2 linked regions of the Homo sapiens genome follow. The protein of the gene in region 1 purifies or fractionates together with the protein of each later gene. This does not show direct contact. Each region holds a gene or a part of one and is shown on either strand. Other genes may lie near its edges. The genes, in order: SLC22A7 and DNAJB12.

What was found.
Region 2: the proteins of SLC22A7 (region 1) and DNAJB12 purify together in Homo sapiens (affinity purification with mass spectrometry; one large-scale study listed by BioGRID and IntAct). This does not show direct contact.

Annotation. Positions count from the first base shown.
Region 1 is NC_000006.12:43,303,562-43,306,268, reverse strand, and holds the end of SLC22A7 (solute carrier family 22 member 7), read right to left. Parts: exon of another isoform or gene 2,238-2,707; intron 2,232-2,237; coding exon 2,025-2,231; intron 1,599-2,024; coding exon 1,544-1,598; 3' UTR 1,047-1,543; coding exon of another isoform or gene 1,016-1,046; 3' UTR 731-1,015; downstream 1-730. Other genes in the region: CRIP3 (cysteine-rich protein 3), read left to right, coding at 1-50, 145-202, 394-455.
Region 2 is NC_000010.11:72,341,407-72,345,223, forward strand, and holds part of DNAJB12 (dnaJ homolog subfamily B member 12), read right to left. Parts: intron 3,722-3,817; coding exon 3,544-3,721; intron 2,106-3,543; coding exon 1,960-2,105; intron 1-1,959. UniProt on the Homo sapiens protein: Acts as a co-chaperone with HSPA8/Hsc70; required to promote protein folding and trafficking, prevent aggregation of client proteins, and promote unfolded proteins to endoplasmic reticulum-associated degradation (ERAD) pathway.

The sequences.
Region 1 (2,707 bases):
TGAGGTGCCAGCGTTGCCACAAGACCCTGACTGCTGGGAGTCATGCTGAGGTGAGCAGGGCAGGAATGAGTGGTTATGTTGGGAGGAGGCTGGAGATGGGAAGAGAACCAGGCTGAGACAGCTCTCTTTCTCTCTGTGTCTCAGCATGATGGAGTCCCCTACTGCCACGTCCCCTGCTACGGCTACCTGTTTGGCCCCAAAGGTGGGCAGCCCCATCCCAGACACTGGGATGGCATGTACATGCCTGAAGTATGGCATGTACATGGTCTGTGGGTATGTGTGGACAACTTCCCCTGTGGTTAAGCATACCCTGGCCCCCCCACCAAGTTCCCTCTAGGCCTGAACCCTGCACCACAGACCCAGGGCCTTTGGTGATAGGGCTCTCTCTCTCAGGTGTGAACATTGGCGATGTGGGCTGCTACATCTATGACCCAGTGAAGATAAAATTCAAATGAGACGCTCACAAAAAAGGTCACCCTAACTCAGGCCTCCCATCATGCCCCTCATGGTCCAATGGAAGCTACAAAAATCTCCAGTCCCATGGGGGTTGGGGAAGGTGGGATCTTGGGGGCCTGGGCCTAGGCTCCATGGTAGGCCAGAGAGTCTAGACTTTCTCTGCCAATTTTTTCCCTTTCCCATTTCTATCTGGTTAGGGAACAGCCCGTTTTGAAGGGTATCCTCCTCCTGGCCATCACAACCCCTTTCCCCAGCACATTCTGGAGCTTCAAGGTACTCATAAAACTTGTGTTTATTGAATTTCAGCCTCTGTGGCTTCTTCAATAAAATGTTGGCTCCCATGCCTTCAACTCTTCTTTGGGCATGAGACCAGTGGGTTGGAGGATGGGGAGTGTGGGGGTTGGGATGACATGCATTGCCCTGCAGGGTGCCTCGGAGGTAGCAGGGCCAGCCATGAGAACAAAAAGCTCTGTTCTTTTTGTCCCTTGGGCCTGGCATTGGCAGTCCTAGCACCACACAGTGGACAGCATGCCCACCAGCCCCATTGGTACCAGAAGTCTCATATGCTAGTCCTTTCTTTAGCACCATCTCTAGAAGAAGCAGAAGCACCTTATTCAGTAACTCATTTGAGCATGGCAACAGATCCTATGGTAGGGCCTCCCAAGAGGCTTCATTATCCATTTGGGAGATGAACAGACTGAGGCCCAGAGAGGGAAAGCCACATGCCCAAGGTCACACAGCAAGTTAATGGTGAAGGTTTTATCAGAGCCCAGGGCAGACTCAGTGGCTTCCTATCCAGGGCTCTTCCCACAGCTCGTCACCACTGCCCCAACCCAAGGGGCACCTTTATTTACAGAATCCTCCCCAACCGTGAGAGGGGTGCCCAGCAGCCCACTGCATTCTGGGAAGTCAACTGTTCCTAGAAGCCAAATAATCAAGGATGGATGAGCAGAGGGAGCGGGTACTGGCAGCAACTCCGGCCCTAGGCAGAGGGTTCGATACTCCCAGCCTGAGTTGCAGGGCCTGCCCTTCTGCTCTCCCAGCCCCTGCTGCAGAGCTTCTGTGGAGGGCCTGCCTCCACTCCCACTTAGTTCTGGACCTGCTTCATGGGCATCTCTTCCTCCTGAAGACTGGTTGGGGCACTAGGGAGGAAGGAGTTGTGAGCAATGGTGGGGTTTAATCCCCGAGCCTACCACCCCAGCCTGCCCCATCAGGGCTGTCCCAGGGCTCACCCCAGTTCCTGGTATACAAACGCCTGTACAAGTGACTCACACACATGCTTGTACACACCCCTGATGTGTAGGCATACTTGAGTGTGCACACATACACATCTTCCTGAACAACCTTATGTATTTGTGTTCATACACTCATGTACACATTTATGCTTGCAGTTTACATGCCCCCAATCATGCACCCTGAAACACTCACCTGTGCACGCACACATACATGCACCAAGTACACATGTGCAGATATAGTTTCCTGTCTGAATCCTAAGGTGTCAGGTATCTGAGCACCTGCATCCATATGCATGTTATCACACGTACACAGACACAGTCCTGTGCACACACCTCTTTCTCTCCACGTCCTGGATGGTCTCTGGCAGCTGTGCCTGCCTCGTCTCTGGCAGCAGGAGGGCGGTGCCGGCAGCCAGCAGGGCGATCCCCCCATAAGTAAGCTTGGGCAGTGACAGCCACACTCCATCCAGCAAGGCCGCCAGTGGGGCCAAAGAGCCCCCCAGCCGGCCCACCAGTGCAGTCAGCCCCATCCCTGTCTGTCTGTTCAGAGAAAGAGGATGAGGGAGGCAGATGGTGTTCACACCTACCTGGAGTCATGCCCCACAGGGCTTCCCTCCAGGGCTGGCAGGCCCTGATACTCCCTTCTCCCCATATAGCTAAGAAAACTAGGACTTCTTTCAGTTGGTCTTCCCACCCACCTTCAGGCCAGGAGACCTCAAGCCAGCACCCACCAGAGGACAGGGCCCCCATTCTGACAGAGTACCAATTAGGTATCACTAAAGGAGAAGACAAGTCACCAGACTGGGAGATAAGGAAAGGGTGATGTGGAAGGAAGAAGGTCAGTAGTTTGTACAGGCCCTGCCATGTTGTTCGAGGAGGCAAACCTCTTTCTAAACATGACCAGATGCCTAGAATTTTCCTCTTCCCACCTCTCAGTAGCTAGCTGAAAGACCCCCCCAACCCCGGGCCTTTCAAGGGGTTGCTCTTGGGACAGTCCTCAAGGGCATCTCTGCCTT
Region 2 (3,817 bases), on another chromosome or scaffold:
CAATGGTCAAGCTTTGTCAATGTGCCAGGCCTCCTAGGAGTGTGGCCTCATTTACTTCTTTTTGTTTGTTTATTTTATTTTTTGAGGCAGGGCCTCACTCTGTCACCCAAGCTGAGTGCAGTGGAGCAACCGTGGCTCACTGCAGTCTCAACTTCCTTTGCTCAAGCGATCCTCCCACCTCAGCCTCCTGAGTAGCTGGGACTACAGGCGTGAACCACCACACTCAGCTAATTTTTTGTATTTTTTGTAGAGATGAGGTCTTGCCAAGTTGCCCAGGCTGGTCTCAAACTCCTGGGCTCAAGGGATCCTCCCACCTTGGCCTCCCAAAGTGCTGGGATTATAGACATAAGCCACCACACCAGGTCAACTCATTTACCTCTAAGAGCAACCCTATCTCCATTTCACCAATGAGAAAACTGAGGCTCAGAGAAGTGACTGCCTAAGCTTACACAGCTTTAATATGTTACAGAGCTGGGAGTCAAACAAAAGCAGGTGTCTCTTGCTTCAAGTTCTCTCTCCGACTTTATGAAAACCACCAAAAACCTCTTTCCTCATTCTCTCTTGACGTGCCCAATAGGATGGGCATCCCTTTCTGGAGGTTCTGTAAACCTGAAGTCATAGTCTGACATGCAGGCCAGACAGACACACAATATCCTTATTGTGAACTGGAAAGCAGCAGGAGCTGTGGGGAAGGGCCAAATCTCGGGGCTCTATGGAGACTCCTCCACTTCTGGTGATGCAGCTGGGGTGAGTCCCCCACTCTCTGGGGTCCAGGCCCCAACCGTTATTTCCTATCTGGGCCTGGAGCCTCCCACCAGGGCCCCCTAGCCGGGACGGCTGTGCCCTGAAGGACCCCAGCTCTGACCTCCTCAGTCTCTCACTCCCTCTCCTCAAGCTGCCACTGACTCCGAGGAGTGGGTCCAAGCCACATCTGATTCCCATCCTGAAACCCCCGGGAATAAGGAGCGCGGAATCGTCTCCTCCGCCAATTCTGAATAGGCCTCAAGGCCAGAGCTGGCCTCTCGGTACAGTCGGAGCAGGCTGCAGGCAGAGGCTGGGGCTGGAGAAACATTCAACAGGGCTACCTTGCTTCCCCCCACTCCCACTCTCCTCCTCCAGGGCCCCGGGACACTGCACACCAGGTCTCGGAGTCTCCTCTGCCACAGGCTCTCCAGCTGGCTATGGTTGTGGGTGCAGCACAGCACACACCCCGCCCAGGCCAGTGGGGGCTAGTCACCATGCTATTTCCCAAGGAGGTGGATGAAGTGGGAATGAGAGAAGGAAGACATGGTGGGAATGAGAGAAGGCAGTAATGTTTGGGGCAATGAGAAATTGCAGTGCACAGAGTCAGTACACATGAGCGCCTGACAGGTTAAATGAAAATGTAATGAATAAAGGGCAGCTTACGATTTCAGCCAGAAATGAAGCACCCATCCTGAGCCAGTGGGCCCTGAAGCCAGAGACTGCCATGTCCCCACTGCAAGCCCCAGGTGTATAGGTATGGCGGGGGAGCTGGCTGTGGCTGCTGGTATTGAGGTGGCCACCAGGCCTGAGGCCCCCGACCTGGGGCTACCCTGCCCCTCAGCAGGGAAACAGTTACCCCAGTGGGCAGCTATGAGACTCTAAGACAGGGAAGCGCACACGGTGAGTCACTCAATCACTGAGAATCCTTGGAGAAGCTACTAGAACTTTCCTGCCTCAGCTCTACTACGTAACCCCAGGAAATGCAGAGGAAGCAGGGGCAGGAATGGTGCTATCTGAGCTCTGACCAACTCTACATAGCTAGAGGTGGCTACTAGAACCTTTTTCCCAAGAAGCAGCTCCCAAGCCTGGGCAACTTGGGCCCAAGGCCACTTCCTCCTGCTCCCTGCTTCCTGGGAAAGCTGTCTTGGTCCCTTACTCCCTGCCATGGACAGGAGATGAACACACCAAAATGCTAGGAAAGCAGGGCTGGCTTACCTTTGAAGGCTTCAGTGGCACCAGGTGCGTGGTTCTTGTCTGGGTGGAATTTGAGGGCCAGTCTGCGGTAGGCCTTCTTCAGGTCCTCATCCGAGGCCCCTCTGCTCACCCCCAGGATCTCATAGTAATCTTTACATTGCTTGACCCTGGGGAAGGAGGAGACCATGGTACGGGGTGCTCTACATGGGTCTGTGTGAGGGGGGCGATGAACAGGCCGTGTGGGGCGCACAGCTCTGGGCAGGCTGCGGGGGACCAACAGGGCAAGGCTGACAGCTCCTTGGGTCAGCTGTGTGACACCAGGGACAAGGGAGCCAAGTGGGCACCAAATGTGATGCAGAGCTGGGCAGGACCACGGGAAACAGAAGAACACCGTCTGGATTCTTGGATTTAGGAGGGCATCTGTGGGGTTCGCCAGGCCAGTATCTATCTTCCCCATGGGAAGAGCTCAGGAGGACTGTCGGTGTCCATCACCCAGGGTGGTGTCCCAAGCTCAGCCAACCGACTCTCCTGGCAATCTGAGTCTTTTTTTTTTTTTAATTTTTAAAAGTTTTTAAAATGTTAAATATTTAAAGATAGAGACAGGGTCTTCTAATTGCCCAGGCTGGTCTCAAACTCCTGGGCTCAAGGGATCCTCCTGTCTCAGCCCCCCAAAGTGCTAGGATGACAGGCATGAGCCACCATGCTCAGCCCAATCTGAGTCTTGAGTGGGTAACATGAAGGCCAGAAGTGGCAGGTGACTGTTCACCGCAAGCACAGGGCCTAAAGAGACCCTGGTTCTCTTTCACCAATTCTTCCTCTCCGCGTCCCTGGAGACCTCCTGGTTCTTGGCCGTTTCTAGGCCTTCCCAATCCCTCATACATCAGTTTCTATTGCCTACAATGGACCTTGCCGACTCAGTGAAGTACAGATCTCGCCTACACTTTTATGGCAAACAGCAGTCATGCTCAGTCTCACACAGGCGGCCTTGGTCCTGAAGCTTGCCAGGAGCTGTGGCATGACCCTGGGGGATTCCCAAGGCCAGCTGCTGGGAGACCTGGGGAGAAATGGGAGCTGGGAACGTCTAAGCCTGAGGAGCCTTGGCTGGGTGGTCTCTGGCCTGGTAGCGAGCTACTCTGCGTGGGGCCTGCTCACAGCCGTGGGGCAATAACTCTGCCTCTGGTCTCCATTCTACCCCACACAGGCTCTGATCTAAAAGGGTCTTTGTTGGGTGCTGGGATGTGGGTTGGGGTAGAATCTGGAGGGGGAGACAAAGCTCCATCTCTATTGACAAACAGAGCTGTGTAAAGAGGCCTGGGGCCTGCCTGGCCAGCGGCAGAGGAAGCCGGCAGTGTCAGCTTTTCCAGCCTCTGCTGTGGGTCGTGGCGGGAGGGGTGGTGGAGCCCCAGTTCCCACACTGTATTCCTGGGCCTTGAGGGAAATAAGGAGAGGTCCTGGTGAGCCTGGACCCTTGGACCTTCTCCATCCTCCAAGACCCTCCCAGGGCCCTGTGCTGCCCACAGGCAGATGGGAGGTGGAGGACATGCTCCAGGAAGCCTCTAGATTTCCCCAGTCTCCCCAGGCTCCAGCCCCTGCCCACCCATCTACCTTTTCACAGCTGCAACCTGTTCTGCAGTGTAGCCTTTGGTGCTCTCTCCTCCAGCTTCACCGTTGGCCGAGGGGGCATCGGTCCCACCTGCTTTCCTGTGGGTGGCATGGGTTGTGTCTGTGGGTGGGGGTTGGTCACCGGCAGTCTGTGGTTTCTGGTTGAGGGACTCAATCAGGGCTGTGCAAGGCAAGGAAACCATTCAGAGCTCCTGCTCAAGCAGGCTGCGTGCCTCGCCGAGCGGCCCGCTGCTTCCCACTCACTTCCCCTCCCAGC